2 separate regions of the Homo sapiens genome follow, and region 2 is linked to region 1. Evidence: fine-mapped expression QTL. Tissue or cell type: whole blood. Region 1 holds a variant in brackets; the other region holds the start of a gene. All regions are shown on one strand. Distances are between the middles of the regions.

Region 1 (8,257 bases):
GGCTCCCAGCTCCCTCTTCCTCAAGTCACTCATTCTAAATGACTTGAACTCAGACTACAGCAAGAACCTAAGGAGGCCTCAGCTCACCCAGCAGTGCCCTCAGCCCTCCCTCCTGTGGTCAGATACAATCTTCCCTGGGCAGCCAAACCAGGCTCCCATCGCCCGAGGGAAAGAAGAAGGCCAAGAGGTGAGGTGGGGCCAGAGGTGGGAGAGCCTGGCTGGGGGGATGGCTGGGGGGACAGGAGGAGAAAGGGAGGAGCAGGCCTGGAGAGAGGGACCCTGGCCTGCTCAGAGCCTCCCAGGTGGGAGTGAAAGGAGCAGGAGGGGACACAGAGGTTTCCAGAGTGGGGGAGGGACTGGGTCATGGCCCGGAGGTCAAGTCAGATCTGGTGGGAACTGTGAAGTGATAAGGTCAGGAGTGCACAGCCCAAGGACCCCATAGTGCAGACCCTTTTCCTCCCACTGCCCCATCCTATGTCCTGCTGCCTGTTTCCTCAGAGAAGGGACCTACTCAGCCTCTTTCCCAGATAATCTGAGATAGAAATCTTTTCTTTTGGAAATGGCTACCTCTCTCAGGCTCCTAAGCCCAGCAAGAAAACCTATAGTAGGGCCCAAGCTGGTCAGCAGCAGAAAGCCCCCAGGGGACATGGAGGCCAGCTGGGGTTGGAGAAGACAGAGATGAGTCCTGAGGCCACCTGTCCAGGACAGACACCTTTCCCTCTTGCTGTCCAGTTCAGGGTCAAGGGGACAGGAGGCCAGGAGACCCAGAGGCTGCCTGGACGGGGTACTGGGTGGACACAGAAGCGCTCTGCTGGCCAGACTTGGGGCAGAAGGGATATTTTTTGAGAAACTGCCGGGGTGCTCCTTTGGGTCTGTGTCTCAGAGGCAGCCACAGTTCCTCTTCAGAGCCGAGAAATGAGAACTTCCTGCAGGCAGGCGCTGCTGGGGGAGGGGGCAGCCTGGGCACAGGGAGACTCCCACCGACTGCCCCTCAAACCAGCCCATGCTTTGGGTAACAAAGTTCGGTCCGAAAATGCTGCTCTACCTATTTAAATTCTGCCCATCCTCTGAGGTCCAGCCCAAGTCCATCTCCTTGGGAGGCTCTCCCTGACCTCTCCCCTCTTCCTTTTCCACAGCACTCGCTCTGTGTCTACCACCTTGACACTTCATTCATCATGATCTCTGTGGTGCCCTGTGGAAGCCATGCCCATCTGCACCAAACACCTCGCAGGGCACGTGGCAGGCTCTGTTAGTAGCTGACAAATCAAATACAATGACTCTCTCCTGACAACCTGCCTGAGACACAGCATGCATATTTCTCAAGGTGGTGGGCCTCAGAGGCAAACTCCCCTCCCCACGACATGGTAACCCCCAATCCCAGGCCTTCTTAGTACCTCTTCTTTCTTCTGCAGGACCTGGTCCTCCCAGAGGTTTCTGGACTGGGCTCCAGGGTGCACTCCCAGAGACTGTGTCAGGCTGAGTCCCCTGCCTCCTGGGAATTCTGTCCCACCTCCCCAGTCCCTACCCAGGGGCTGGTCAGCAGCATTCATGCTTGGGAGCAGAGCCAGGTTCTCTGTGCCTTGCTCCCCTGGTAACCACAGATTCCGGACACCATGCACTCTCTGGATAGGAGAAAAATTAATGACCCTGAATTCTGTGGTGTGGGCTACCAGGCCCCAAAGGGATGTTTTGTGGTGATAATCCATAATATAAGGTCTGTCCAGAAAAGCTGTGTGCATGTGTGCATGCGTGTTGGCAACGGGGCTGCTTCCAATAGCAATTCCTGGAAAAAGTTCTGCTTTTCCCCCGCTCCCTGGCCCCGTGCTGAGGGCCATCAAGTTCAGAAGAGCGCAGAGCGACAGAGATTAAGACCCAGGAACAGCTCTCTTTGTGTCCTAGAGAGAGGAAAGGTATCTACTGGCACCCCGTCAGTAGCTGAACTGAAGCCAGAGCATGAACATCCTGCCTCCCAGTTCTGGCTTGAGTGTGGGACCTCTTTTCCCATCACTGCCTCTCTCCGAGGGCTGTTACTACTAATTTGGGGTCAGCCTGAAAAAAAAAAAAAAAAGAGAAGTAAATGGACCCAAGGTACCAGGAATACTGTCTAGCACAGGGCTCTTTGCCAGGTTGGAGAGCTCTTCTTTTTGGAATCCTGGCTACTCCCCTTTTCTATCTTCTTTGGAGGCAACTGCAGTCAGACTTAAGAACAGTTTACTTGGCACTGGGGCATGTGGGCCTACCAAGTCACCTTCTTAAACCAGAACACCTGATTTTACCCAGAAACCTATGGAGCCCCTGTTCCAATAGGTGCACCCCAGCCCTCAGCAACCTCCAGAGTAAACACAAACACAATTCTAAGCACCTGGAACAAACTGACCTCCCTACTGCTCCTACCTTATTGCCTCAGGCCCCAGTCTTGGTCCTCCCTCCCCAGCAGGTATGACTTTGCCTCCTAGATCTGCAAAAGGTGGATGAAAACCTGAGCCTTGCCGACCACCTGCTCTCCCAGGAGCTTCATGTCTTCAGTGGGACAAAAGGCTTCCCCAGGAGCACTGCCACCTAGAACGCCCCCCTCCCGATGCCTCCAGTGTCTTTTCTTAATTTTTTTTTTTTTTTGAGGTACGGTCTTGTTCTGATGCCCAGGCTGGAGTGCAGTGATGTGAACATGGCTCACTGCAGCGTTGACCTCCTGGGCTCAGGCAATTCTCCTGCCTCAGCCTCCAGAGTAGCTGGGACTACAGTATGCACCACGATGCCTGGCTAAATTTTTTTTGTTTTGTTTTGTTGTTTTTTTTTTTGTAGAGACGAAGTCTTCCCCTGTTGCCCAGGCTGGGCTCCTGGGCTCAAGCGATCCTCCCCGCTCATCTTCAAAGTCTTTGTTGAGGCTGTTCCCACCTCCCTGGACTCTTGATTAGCGGAAAAGGAAGCAGCAGCAAGAAGACCTAGGCCCCAGCAGCAAGAGGAAAGCAGGCAGTGGCAGAAGGCCATAGTCCTGGGTTCAGAGCTGACTCCCTTCACACCCGAGGTTGCTGTCTCTGGTTCTCCTTCCCTGACATAGGCTGGAAAAAGCTTGAGTCTCCATGGGGCTGGCAGAGAAGATGAAGGCTGGTGGTGAAATGGCTTCAGGAAGATCCAAGAACAAATAAACAGGAGAAAGAACACTGTGGTTGCCAGGCCTCCCTGACACAGAGTGGGGGCTGAGCACAGAGGATCTGCTCCTCTTCCAGGCTTTAGAGATCGTTCAGACCAACACTCTCATTTGACAGAGGAGCAAAGAGAAAGAAGGGGCTAGGTCACAGCCACCCAGCCAGCCAGTGGTCCAGCCAGGCCAGGCCAGACCAGTACAGGGGAAACCCAAAGGTCAACCCCAAATGCAGGTACTACTTCCCTGGGAAGTCACTGATCTAGGGGTTGAAAAGATGGAAATATGAGTGAAACCTGGTTCTCACTTTCAAGGAGTTTAGAATACAGCCTGCAGCCTTAAACATATTTGAACAAGTACAATACTTGCAGATACTAAAAAAAATTCAGAGAGCCCAAAAGTTGTTAGGATAAGTTTCTCATTCATCCCAGACTCCCTAGAACTTCCCTGGAAGCCGCCCTTTCTAACAGCTTCTTGTGTCTCCCTTCCAGAAATTCTCTATACTGCTCATTGATTGGCACTGAATGCTTCTTGCTCAGATTTATCCAGAACCCAGCAGGGAGCTGAGAGTGGGCTGGAAGCCCCTGCCACATGAAGTCTGGCAGGCC[A/G]CAAACTGTGAGGGAATTGAAGGTCTAAAGCACACAGGACATTGGCTTTGCGGTCAGATGGGCCTGGGTTTAAGCCCCGACTCCCTCGGTGACTGGCAAAGCAAGCCAGAAACACAATTTAACCTGCTTAAGCTGCCCCACCTGTAATCAGGAGATAAGAATACCTACTTCAGGCTGGGCGAGGTGGCTCACGCCTATAATCCCAGAACTTTGGGGAAGTTCTGCCCTGGCCAAGGCGGGCAGATTACTTGAGGTCAGGAGTTCGAGACCAGCTTGGCCGACATGGTGAAATCCCATCTCTAACAAAAATACAAAAATTAGTCAGGCATGGTGGCGGGGAGCATGTAGTCCAGCTACTTGGGAGGCTGAGGCACAAGAATCGCTTGAACCCAGGAGGCGGAGGCTGCAGTGAGCTGAGATTGCACCACTGCACTCCAGCCTGGGCGACAGAGCAAGACTCCGTCTCAAAAACAAAAACAAAAACAAACAAAAAGAATACCTACTTCAAAGAGGTCACCTGAGATTAGCAATGCTGTCTGTGATGCACCCAGCACATGGTGGGTGCTCCCTTGTGGTAGCGAGTATTAGTTTGCCTCCTGTACTTGTCTGCAGCCTCCTTCCTGGCATTAGCGTTTCAGTGTCTGCTCCCAACTCTCCTCCCTCCTCTACCACAGACCATTTTCTCCTGAATGCATGCCCCTGCCCCATCTCTCTCTCTCTCTCTTTTTTTTTTTTGAGATGGAGTCTCGCTCTGTCACCCAGGCTGGAGTGCAGTGGCACAATCTCAGCTAACTGCAAACTCTGCCTCCTGGATTCAAGTGATTCTCCTCCCTCAGCCTCCCAAGTAGCTGGGACTACAGGCATAAGCCACCAAGCCCAGCTAATTTTTGTATTTTTAGTAGAGACGGTGTTTTGCCATGTTGGCCAGGCTGGTCTCGAACCCCTGTCCTCAGGTGATTTGCCTGCCTCGGCTTCCCAAAGTGTTAGGATTACAGGCGTGAGCCACCGTGCCCAGCCCCCTGCCCTATCTCTTATCCCCAGCCTCTCCCAACTATGCTCTCTTCCCTTTCTCTTCCACCTGAACTTTTGTAAGCGAACACCTTATTATGTGCCAGGAGTTGTTCTAAGTACCCTACATTTGCTAACTTATCTAGTCCACATGACAAACCTATGAGGTATTTACTGTTTTATCCCCATTAGATAAATGAGTACGCTGAGGCCCAGCAGTATTAGATAACTTGTCTGAGGTCACAGACAAGTGGCAGAGGTTGAGCTGGGACTTGAGCCCAGGCAATTGGGCTTCAGAATCCACGCTCTCAACCAATACACTCCACCCCTCCTCCCCAGCATTCCCATTCGCCACAGGCCAGCCAGCAAAGGACACATGCAGGACCTAGATGGGCATGCAGAAAGATGGAAAAAAAAAATCACACAGCCCCACAGAGACCCGTGCCAGCAGCAATCCCCAGCCCTGCGCAGGTGAGAGGGCAGAAGCTATGTCATCTTTGGGTGCCCATGAAGACAATCTCAAAGAATCATTTGGAGCAACTGTTGACTTTGTAGAAACCAAGCAATGATTTGGGACTGTGTGCTGGAAACAGGGGGCTGGCAATGGGTTGGGGTCTTAGAGGACCCTCAGCTCCAACTCCCCTGCTCTCAGTGCCCTGCCATATCCCTTCTCTAGAAGCTCCCAAGTCCCTCTAGGACTCTCTCATTAGCGTCCCAAAGCAAGCTGCACCATTTCTCTGTATAGGCAGAGGAGCCAGCTGCCCATCAGGGCAGAGGCTCAGCTGCCAGGTGAGCCAGCCGGGATGTCTGCCTACCCAGACGAAGGCCTCCATCAGTCCGAGGCAAGAGGACAGAGAAGCTCCTGCACACCAAACAGGAGGCTGGATGTAAGGGTGGCAACAGTGAGCATGCCTCTTTCTCCGCCACCTCAGGGCAGCTGGGGCCCTGAGGCAGCTATTTTTAGCTCTTGACACCTGGGTATTTTGCAGCCGCAGGATGTCCGGTTTGGAGTCTCTTTCTGGGAATCCCACATGCGGCTGTTGTAAACAGCCCCACGCAGCAGTGGCCTGAGCTGGGAGCCAGTGTCGCCCCCCCACCCCACCTCCACTTCTGCTGTTTGAGATGAATCAAACAGGAAGCAGATGTAACCATGGCAGCAGCGGCTTGAGCTCCCTGGGGGTGGGAAAGCATCCTCCCTGGTTCTTTGTCCCCCACCCCAGATCCCCAGCTCCACCCTGTGGCCTCTCCTCAAGGATGAAGACCTGGCAGAACCTGAGGCCGGGGAGCTGGGCCATTCTGAGTTGCGTATGGCTGTCGGTTTCTGGGTCTGGCACTCTCTGGAGACCCTTGCTGTCCTCTGACAGAGAAAAACAGGGGTCCTCCCAGCCCTGTCCAACTCCCGGGACCTCTCGGGCCACCACTCAGCCTTCCCTGCAAGTCCATTGTGAAGGGGAGGGCATAGCTACTTCCTGCGGTGGCAGGCCTGGAGGGCCTGCATCTACTTCCTATTACCCATGGCCTTCAGCTTATAGCCTGGCCTGCCCCTGCACTGCTCTGCCCACTTAGGGAATTCCTGAGCCAGTGGGCTCCCCTAGTCCACACTACCCTAAGATTTCTCAGTTCCAAAAAGCCCTCAAAGACATAAGTTCCACATTCATCCTCACTCCTCTGCTCCAGTATCTCCAGTCCCTGAGATAGGAAGTTCACCATGATGTCTAACTACCATCTTTCCTATCATAAGCAAAACATCCTGAGCAGGCAAGATTTGAGGCCCTATCTGTAACATGGGGATAAGTCGGCCAGTTTCTGCCTTCATCTCTCCCCTTCGCCTTTACCCCTCTGGTGCCCCACTTAGACCAGTTGCTCCTTTAGCAGCCAGTGTGAGCCAGTCTTTCTCAAGGGCCAGTGTTTGCCCCAACAGGAAGCACAGTCACCGCCCCAGGCTGCCTCTAGGGGCGGCTCCTTCTCCCCTCTGAGGTGTCACACTCATTCCCTTGCTCTCCTTGTCACCCCAGCTCCTGGGCCCTCCTCATGCAGACCCTGCCCCTCTGTGTACCCTACTCCTGCTTTGCCCACTGGTTCTGCCTCTCCCAGCTGCAGGCCGAGCGAGATGTGCCTTCCTCACTCTTCTCACCTGTGCCACCCACAAGGCCACGCAGCCCATTCCCAAGACTGCCAGGGAAATGTTTAAGTTACAATATCAACAATAGTTATATTATTTTAATTAATTAATAATATTAATAATGATCAACAATCATGTGTTAATGCTTACTGTGTGCTGGCTATTATCCTAGGCATTTTTGGCGGGGGGAGGGCAACATCCTCCCACTAAGCGATTTTTATTTATTTATTTATTTTGAGATGGAGTCCCACTCTGTCACCCAGGCTGGAGTACAGTGGCACGATCTTGGCTCACTTCAACCTCTGCCTCCCGGGTTCAAGTGATTCTCCTGCCTCAGCCTCCTAAGTAGCTGGGATTACAGGCGTGCGCCAACATGCCTGGCTAATTTTTGTATATTTAGTAGAGACGGGGTTTCACCCTGTTGATTAGTCTGGTCTCGAACTCCCAGCCTCAAGTGATCCGCCCACCTCTGCCTCCCAAAGTACTGGGATTACAGGCCTGAGCCACCACACCAGGCCCCCACTAAACATTTTAATTGTACTATTGCAAGTAGTCCTCACAACTCTGTAAGGCAGATACTGTTTTTTTGTTTGTTTGTTTTGTTTTGTTTTTGAGACAGAATTTCACTCTGTCACCCAGACTGGAGTGCAGTGGCACAATCTCAGCTGACTGCAACCTCTGCCTCCCGGATTCAAGTGATTCTCCTGCCTCAGCCTCCCAAGTAGCTGGGATTACAGGTGCAAGCCACCATGCCCAGCTAATTTTTGTATTTTGGTAGAGACGGTGTTTCACTATGTTGGCCAGGCTGGTCTCAAACTCCTGAACTCACTGAATCCACCCACCCTGGCCTCCCAAAGTGCTGGGATTACAGGCGTGAACCACTGCGCCCGGCCTATATACTGTTATTATTCTCATTTTGCAAATGAGGAAACTAAGGCTAAGAGAGGTTCAGAAACTTGCTGAGGTCACACAGATGGTATGTGGAGCTGCTGGGACTCCAGAACCTAAGCTTAGCATCGGTACACTGGCGTGGACTGCTTACTCAGCCTGCCTCCTAGTAGTGGCTGAGGTGAGACCACCAAGGGGACAAGGGGATGCAAGACACAGTGAGGCCCTAGGGTATGCTCCCAATGCCAGCCTGTTCCCACAAAGTGTGCTGTGTTCCACCCCTGCCATCCTCAATTCCTTTTTCATCTTCTATTTCCCTTCCTTTTTAAATGTACATTTTACCATTTTAAAGTGTACCATTTAAACACTTTACAGTGTTTCCTGTTAGCTGCCTCCAGCAGGGTATAACTAAACAAGCAAACCTCCCAGGGCTGCCACAGAGGATCAAACGCTGCGTGAGCTCTCTGGAAACTGTCAAGCCCTCTACAA
Region 2 (8,000 bases), 33 kb before region 1:
TTGTTGAATTACTGTGTTGAGCACTTTGAGTGTATTATCTCAATATATCTCGATCTTTGTAACAAGCCTGTGATGTTTCATCATCATTCCCTGTGTACAGATGGAGGGACAGGAGTCCTGGGTCTAGCTGTGCTAACACAGTAGCCACTAGTCATGTGCAGCTACTTAAATTAATTAAATTAAATTTAAATTAATTTAAATTAAATACACTAAACTTAAATACATTAAATTTAAATTAATTTAAATTAAATACAATTAAAAATTCAGTTCTTCAGTCACACTAGTCACATATCAAGTATTCAATAGCCACCTGTGATTAGTGGCCACCATTATGGAGGGTGCAGATATGGAATATTTTCTTCCAGGCAGAAAGTCAATTGGATTGGACATCTGTGAGTTAGGGGCACTTGCCCAGGGTCACAGCAAATGGTGAAGCTAGGCCTCTGACCCCACCTGAGTCTAATGCTCTGCAATAGCTCTTCATTGTTTCCACAATTTAAAAAATGTTTAAGCCTGGCCTTAGCCTTGTACAACCTGGTCTAGTACTACTGTTACATAATTATTTCTCTTTCTTTTCTTGCGCAATCTCACTTTCCAGCACAGCAAGCTTGCTCACTGCTCTCCCATACTCCTAATATGTCCACTCATAATATTTTTGCTCTCCTCCTTCTGTCTGCTCAGCTAATGAATTCTCCCCTGACCTTTAGGTTCAGATAGCTGAAATAGCTCTTGAAGCAGTTTCGTCTCTTCCATTCTCTCTGCTTCTGCCTGGACCAGCTCTGAAGCCCCTCATCCTCTCTTGCCATGGCAGCCTTCTGCTGCTACTAATTCTACTTCCTGACATTTATTGAGTATCTACCATGTGCTAGGCACTCTTCCAGGCACTCCTCATCACAACACTTTGAAGTAGGTGTTACTGCAGTCTCCATTTTAAAGACCTGGTAATTAAAGCACTGTGGGGTGAAATTTGTCCAACTCATCTCTCTGCTTCTAGTGTTTCACAGGCAGTTCGCCTTCACTCTATTACTCTGGCCATAGTTCTAAAACACAGAATTGTGAGTTTTCTCCCCCAGCCCCAAGGGGAGGGGGACAGCCTTCTTAACAGAGCATGCAAGGCCCTTTATGTTCAGAACCTTTCTAATCTCCAAACCCGCTACTCTACCTTCAAACTTGACATTCCAGCCACAAACGACTTACAGTTTCCCAAAGCGGCCGCTTTATTTCTTCCCTCTGCGCCATCACACGTGCGGTTCCCACTGCCTGGAGTACTGTCCATCCTGGCCAGCTCTGAAGCCATCCATGGAAATGCACTCCGGACCACGGGGCTTGCTCCCTCCTCCACAGGACCAGCACTCACTCTCCACCGGCAGCTCCTAAAGGAGGGCTGCTGCTGAGCTCACAGCCTTGACATCACTTCTCATTAAAATACACACTCCAAGATTCAAAATTTAATAGGCAGGGGTGGGGCTGGGTTTATTTTTTTATTTTTAAAGAAGCTCCCAGATTATTCTAGAGTGAGGCAAATGTGCTTAACACTGGTTTACATCCCTTGTTTGGCAGTTAAGCACACCCTGTCTAGATTCCTTGTGTATAATTGCTTTTGTTTTTATTTTATTCTTACCTTCATTCACTCACACTCACCTATTCAACAAACATTTATTAAGGGGTCATTATATGCCAGACATGCTTTTAGATGTTGATGTGAACAAAACTGGCACTGTCCCTGCTCATGAAGTTTATGTTCCAGAGGGGGTGTGGTGGGTGGGATAATAATGGCCCCCAAAGATGTCCACGTCCTCATCCCAGAACCTATGAATATGTCACCTTCCACGGCAAAGGGATTTATTTTGCTGATGTGATAAAATTAAGGATCTTGCGATGGGGAGATTATCCTGGACTATCCCCTCAATCACAGGGGTCCTTAGAAGGGAAAAGGAGGAAGAGGGAGTTAAGGCATGTGGGTAGCCTCACTCTAGAAGCTGGAAAAGGCGGCCGGGCACGGTGGGCTCACACCTGTAATCCCAGCACTTTGGGAGGCTGAGGTGGGCGGATCACCTGAGGTCAGGAGTTCGAGACCAGCCTGGCCAACATGGTGAAACCCCATCTTTACTAAAAATACAAAAATTAGCTGGGTGTGGTGGTGGAAGCGTGTAATCCCAACTTCTCGGGAGGCTGATGCAGGAGAATCACCTGAACCCAGGAGGCAGAGATTGCAGTGAGCTGAGATCACGCCACTGCACTCTAGCCTGGGTGACAGAGCAAGACTCCGTCTCAAAAAAAAAAAAAAAGTCAAGGAAACTGATTTTCCCCTAGAGCCTCCAGAAACAAGGCAACCCTGATGTCCCCTTGATTTTAGCCCAGTGAGACCATTATTTGGATTCCTGACCTACAGAACTGTAAAATAATAATAAGTTTGTGTTATTTTAAATCAGTAAATTTGTGGTAATTTGTTACGGCAGCACACACACAAAAAAAACTAATGCAAGGGGTATTGGTTATGTTTTGTGCAGGTATATGATGGGCCTCCCCATGTGGATCCTTAGTGCTGTGGCAGAGCCCTTGTTATTGTGCTGGGATTTTCCCTCCAGCTCCCGGCCGGAAGCTGGGCTCACGTGGGAGCTCAGTGCCCTCCTGCTACAGATCTGTCTCTTCCTTACAATGGTATGATCCCGAGGGTCAGGGTGAGGGGTTTGGGAGGATAAGGCTTGTGCTGATAAAAGGAAAGGTGAGGTCCGTTGCAGTGGCTCAAGCCTGTAATTCCAGCGCTTTGGGAGGCCGAGGTGGGAAGACAGCTTGAGGCCAGGAGTTGGGGACCAGCCTGGGCAATATAGCGAGACCCTATCTCTACAAAAAATAAATAACAAAAAATACTAGCCAGGCGTGGTGGCACACACCTGTAGTCCTGGCTGCTTGGAAGGCTGAGGTGAGAGCATTGCTTGAATCCAGGTGTTGGAGGATGCGGAGCTATGATGGCGCCACTGTACTCCTGCCCGGGCAACAGAGTGAGACTCTGTTTAAAAAAAAAAAAGTAGGGATTTGTGGGGAGCTGTGCGTGAGGATAGAATGTATAGAATGTTTGCAGTCAGAAGGTGATGGTCGCAGGGGTTCCCAGACTTTAGTGTGTGGAGAAATCCTCTGCGATATGGTGGGAGGGAACCTGGTTGATAGAAGGACGGGCGGAAGGAATTCTATTCACAGCGTACTCTAATATTTCTTAAGTTTTACCTATTAATTTTTAACAAGAAATTTTAATTTTAATTTTAAACGAAAATACGCATCGTACTCAGAGGTAAAGATTTTTAATCCTCGCGGTTCGCTCGTATAAAGGCATATTTCCGGTCCCTTCCAAGGTCCAACAATCCGGACACGGCGGGTCTGGGGATGGGCCCAGGAATCCGCCTTTTTAGCAGCATTCCCCCAAACGACACGGCAGCTTCGCAAAGCGGCGGTGGCGTCTGCGGTTCCGGGCGCGGGCGGCCTCCGGCCGGGGAGGGCGCTGTGCGGGCGGCGCTGGGGGCGGGCCGGGGGCGGAGCGCGGGGCGCCGGCTGCTCTGGCGGCTCCCGCGGCTCCGGCTGGCGGCTTCGGGCCCTGCACCTGTGACTCTCGGCCGCGCTCGCCCTCGGCCCGCCCGGCGCCGCAGCCCCATGGCCCCGTCCAGGCTGCAGCTCGGCCTCCGCGCCGCCTACTCCGGCATCAGCTCCGTGGCCGGCTTCTCCATCTTCCTCGTCTGGACGGTGGTCTACCGACAGCCGGGGACCGCGGCCATGGGAGGGCTCGCAGGTACCCCGGGACGCTGGGCGGCGCGGGGCGGGTGCGCGGCTGCGGGGCGGGCGCCGTCAGCTGCTCCAGGACGCTCCCCGCGAGCGGCGCTTCCCCGCGGAGCGGGTGGAGTGTTTACTCGAAAACAGCGGTTGGCGGCGGCAGGCCCCACGCGGGCCCGGGCTCCTGGGCATTCCTGGGTGCCTCTGAGACCCGATGCCCGCCCGGGCGCCACCTGGGGGTGCCGACGGCCCGCCACTGCCGGCTGCACAGACCTGCCGCGCCGCCCGGGTTATCTGTCACGGCACACTGCCTGTCGCCCTCCGCCCAGTTGCCCCACGACAGTGTCCCCTCCGCGCGCCCGCGGCGCTGGTCGCCTCCTATCCCCAAACACACACACACACACACACGCACACACACACGGTTGTTCTGAGGGATCCCCTGCCCCCCAGGCGCCCCTTCCCTGGGTGCTGGGTGAGGGCAGAGAGGGAAGAAGTGGGAAAGGAAGAGGGCTAGGGGTGGCTGGGGAAGCCCATCTCCCTCCTTCCAGAGGGCTCCCCCGCAGAGCCCTCTGCTGAGACCCACAGGGAGGACGGCGTTAGGGATCTCATAGAAACTGGACATTCTCTTTCCACCCATGTTGGTGCCTTTTTGCTACCCGTCTGCTGTGGCTCCTCAGCCAAGCTCTGCCAAATCCTGCAGGCCAGCCGCCCTTTCTGTGCTTCTGGGAGGGAAGGGGAAGCATCGGTGCGCTGATGGGGGCTCTGGGCTGACCAGTGCTCCTTGTTGTGCACATTTGGGCTCGCAGTTTAACCTCTCTGCGCCATAGAATTGGTATGAAGATGAAAAATATTATCTCTACTTTCTAACATTTTAAAAAATGCTTTCTATGTGTCAGGCACTATGTTAAGCAACCTGCTTCCCTTATTTCATTTAATCCTTACATTAGTCTCATGAAGTAGGCCTTACGATTATGTCCATTTTACAGATAAGGAAACTGAGGCCTGAAGTTAAATAAATTGCTTACCCGGGATTACACAGCTACATGAAATAATATGTGTGGGAAAGGACTTTGGGAAGAAAATACGTATAATACTTTTACATATGATGATTATATTCCATTACTAAAATCCTCGGCCAAAAGAACCCTAAATGGAATAACTAAAAATAACTAATTTACTCACTGCCACAGGGAGTGCTGAGTGCCATCCCTGGGTAGAGTCGCAGCATGAGGTGGGGTTAATGCCTTAGAAGAGGGGCATACAGGGCCCCACCCTACACAATGCCAACAAAGCACTGGGTCACCAAGAAGGGGGGATGGGCACCCTGGCTAGGGTGTTCTCTGCCTGCCCAGCTGCCTCACCACCTGTGGGATCCTGAGGACAACTGGCCCATCTCTGCGCGTTATCTACAGAGCCCTAGTTCCTTTCCCCACTGCACCCCGCCACCCTCCATGTTTGTCAAGGTTCACTTCTCCCTGCCACTTTTTTGTTTCCTATTGGCCCTGTTGCTTTCCCCTCTGGAAGGCGGCGTCAGAGCCCTATGATTGCATTGCGAAGACCGAAGGCAAGAGAAGGATGAGCAGGGAGGGCCAGCCTGGGATCTCAGCTGGTTGTGTTGAGTCTGGCCTGGTACAAGTGGAGGTGAACCCTACCTGGCCGTTTGACCCTATCCTGGGCCACAGTTTCCTCATCTATTAGGAGTGGGAGGAGATGTCCCCAAAAGACATCTGACTTCCCTCCAGATCTGAAATCTTGCAGTGCTGCCCACTCCCTGAGTCTCCAGCTGCCTCCTAGAGGGCTGTGGAAAAGGCCTTCTTTCTTATACTCTAGGGAGTTGCCTGGGGTTTTCTTCCGACCCAACTCTGCCCTCTCTCCCTCCCCACAGGCTTCCCTTGGCCTATGAGGCAGGCCAGCTGTGGAGCTGCCTTCAGAGAGAGGCGCTAGGGCAGCAGCTCGCTAGGGCAGCAGCTCGCTAGGGCAGCAGCCAGCTGGAGTAGGGTCCTGGTATCTCCCTGATGGTCTGATCTTTGACAGTGGCTGTGGAAGAGCCAAAACTGCTTGGTAGTGGTGGTGGTGGATGGTGGCAGGGAGAGGGGTTGCCAAGCCTGGGCCTCCGACCTTCCCCACCATGAGTGAGTTCTCAGAGGGTCTGTGGCCAGTCAACCTTCTTCCTCTTTTGGGGGTAAAGTGTCAGCAGATTAACTAACGTGTGAGCACCCTACTTCTGACTCAGCGTTTTATAGCTCAGAATCTGCTGAGTCACCCAAGGGTAGCCCCAGCATGCTCCTTCTCCTGTGTTGGACCAGGCAAGGACTGATTGGATGTGCCAGTTTCTGGAGCAGAGTCATGGAGCCCCTGGGTCTGGTGGGCAGAGTGTTCACGGGTGGGGATACCCTCTCCCATCCTGATGGGTACCTTCGAAGAAGTGGCTTTGGAGAAAGGCAGTGGCAGAAGCAAGACTGGCTTTCCTGGGGAGGCGGGCAGGTGTGGGTTGGATCTACCTGGTCTGGCTTTGCTGTGGGAGTCCTGGGGGAAAACACAAACTCTTGCTCTGGGTTTAGTAGACCAAGGAAAGAGAAAAAGAAAAGTTGCTCCTGAAGTCTAAACAGCTCTATGTTTTTCCCAGGTGAGCTGTGAGCAAGAGCCCTGGGGCTCCAGGACTGTCTTCCTCCTAGGAAGGAATAGAGGGGCCTGACCTAGGCCCAGTGTCCTTCTTGTCTGCATTTACCCTGTGGGATCCCCCGGGTGTCTCCTGTCTCCTCACCTCCAGCCCAGCCACTGGGGATGCTTTCACCGCCCTACCCTATGCCTTCCTTACCCTTAGCTTATCGGCTGTGAGCCAATAAGCTCACATGGCTAAGCAGGGGCTCTGCTCCTTGAAACAGGTAGGATGGAGCAACGGTGTGGTCTGGTGTGGGCTTGCAGCCAGGTGGGATTGGGGACCTGTCCATTCCACCCCGAGTTTTATAAACCAGGCTTCCTAGAGTCCCCAAGTGTGCCAGGGAAGGGTATTAGGGAGATACATTGCCTCCTGCCTGATGTGTGGGAGGGGACCAGTGAGGGGCTCCATCTCCTTCAGTGACCCCCTTGGGTAGGGCTGGTGGAGAGCTCCCTTCCCAGGAGGGTGGTGGGAGCCAGGGCGTGGGCAGCAGGCCTGCCTCCACACTTGATGTGTGTTTATCTGGAGGGGAGGCCTCTGTGCAGGGCCTGGAGCAAGGTTGAGGGAAGGTGAGAGGTGGGTAAACCATGCCTGTTGTTAACAAAGAACAGGGCCCAAAACGCCCCCAAATGGCTGTCTTCCTCTCCCTCCTGCCCTCAGCCCTCTTTGGTATGTGCATGTACATGGGGGTGGGAGTTTTGGGGAACCACTGGATCGTGGCCAGTGGACTAAGAGATGGCATCTTCACAGGCCCCTATTTCAGCATTTCCTAACCCAGAAACTGCTGAGTCACAGAGGAATTGTTCTGACCTTATTTTTCTCCCAAGCTGGCTTCTAGAATCTTTGAGTGGGAAAGGATCTTAGAGCTCAACTTCCCCAACCCCTCTGTGGCACGAGGAGACAGAGGGCGAGGGGACCTGTTCCAGACAGGTGCCCATCAGACTGCTCCTTGAGTGTGCTCAGTGACAACACCCCTTGTTCCCAGGGCCCTTTATAAACCAAACAGCTCCCTCAAATGAAAACATGGGACACATGTGAGGAGTGGGAGGGACTTCTGTGAAAGGTGGCTGGTATAAAAATCCAGATCTTGTAGGAGGTAAGAGGAAGCTGCAGGATGATTGTCCTGTCCACCTCTGGCCCACTCCAGCATCCAGACTAGGTGGGGAGGAACAGATGCTTGTCCTGGCCCACCCTGATCTCAGTAGGAGGGGGACCCACATTCCAGGCCCCCACCCCCTGAGGAAGAGTGGAGGTGGGCAGGGGCAAAGCTGGGAGAGTGTTCAGGGGGTCAAACGGTGGCAGGGGCTGAGGGAAGCTGTAGGCTTGGTAGGCCTTCACCCTCACTAGGGTAGAACCCTGGGCCCAGTTACCTAAACTGGCAGGACCCCTGGGCCCACCCATTTTTAGATGTGGAAACACCAAGGCTTTGGGACACAGCAGTGCCAGGCTCCTGGTTTCTTGGCTTGGAGTCTCATGGGTTTTTGTTCCTCACTGGACTGTCTGGGGACAGCCAAACTGGGACAGCCTCTGAGCTGGTAACCAGAGCATAGCTCCACAGTGACAAGCTTCCTCCTGCCTT

The links. PIP is the estimated chance that this variant, and not a neighbour inherited with it, causes the effect.
Region 2: it holds the start of SLC48A1, and the variant in region 1 is fine-mapped to the expression of SLC48A1 in whole blood (TOPMed, PIP above 0.99).

The regions. Positions count from the first base shown.
Region 1 is chr12:47,802,473-47,810,729 of GRCh38, forward strand. All of the region lies in intron 1 of HDAC7 (histone deacetylase 7), which reads right to left. It overlaps LOC124902926 (a long non-coding RNA gene), which reads left to right. Exons shown (of 2, transcript XR_007063290.1): 1 at 1-187; 2 at 2,803-3,161. Among named protein-coding and RNA genes, the nearest start is that of HDAC7, 13 kb to the right of the region's middle. RefSeq lists an enhancer at 6,460-6,529. The variant A/G (reference allele first, on the strand shown) is at 3,751.
Region 2 is chr12:47,769,660-47,777,659 of GRCh38, forward strand. It overlaps SLC48A1 (solute carrier family 48 member 1), which reads left to right and starts at 3,579. Exons shown (of 3, transcript NM_017842.3): 1 at 3,579-3,781. The coding sequence starts at 3,646. RefSeq lists a silencer at 3,445-4,054 and enhancers at 3,800-4,306, 4,307-4,811.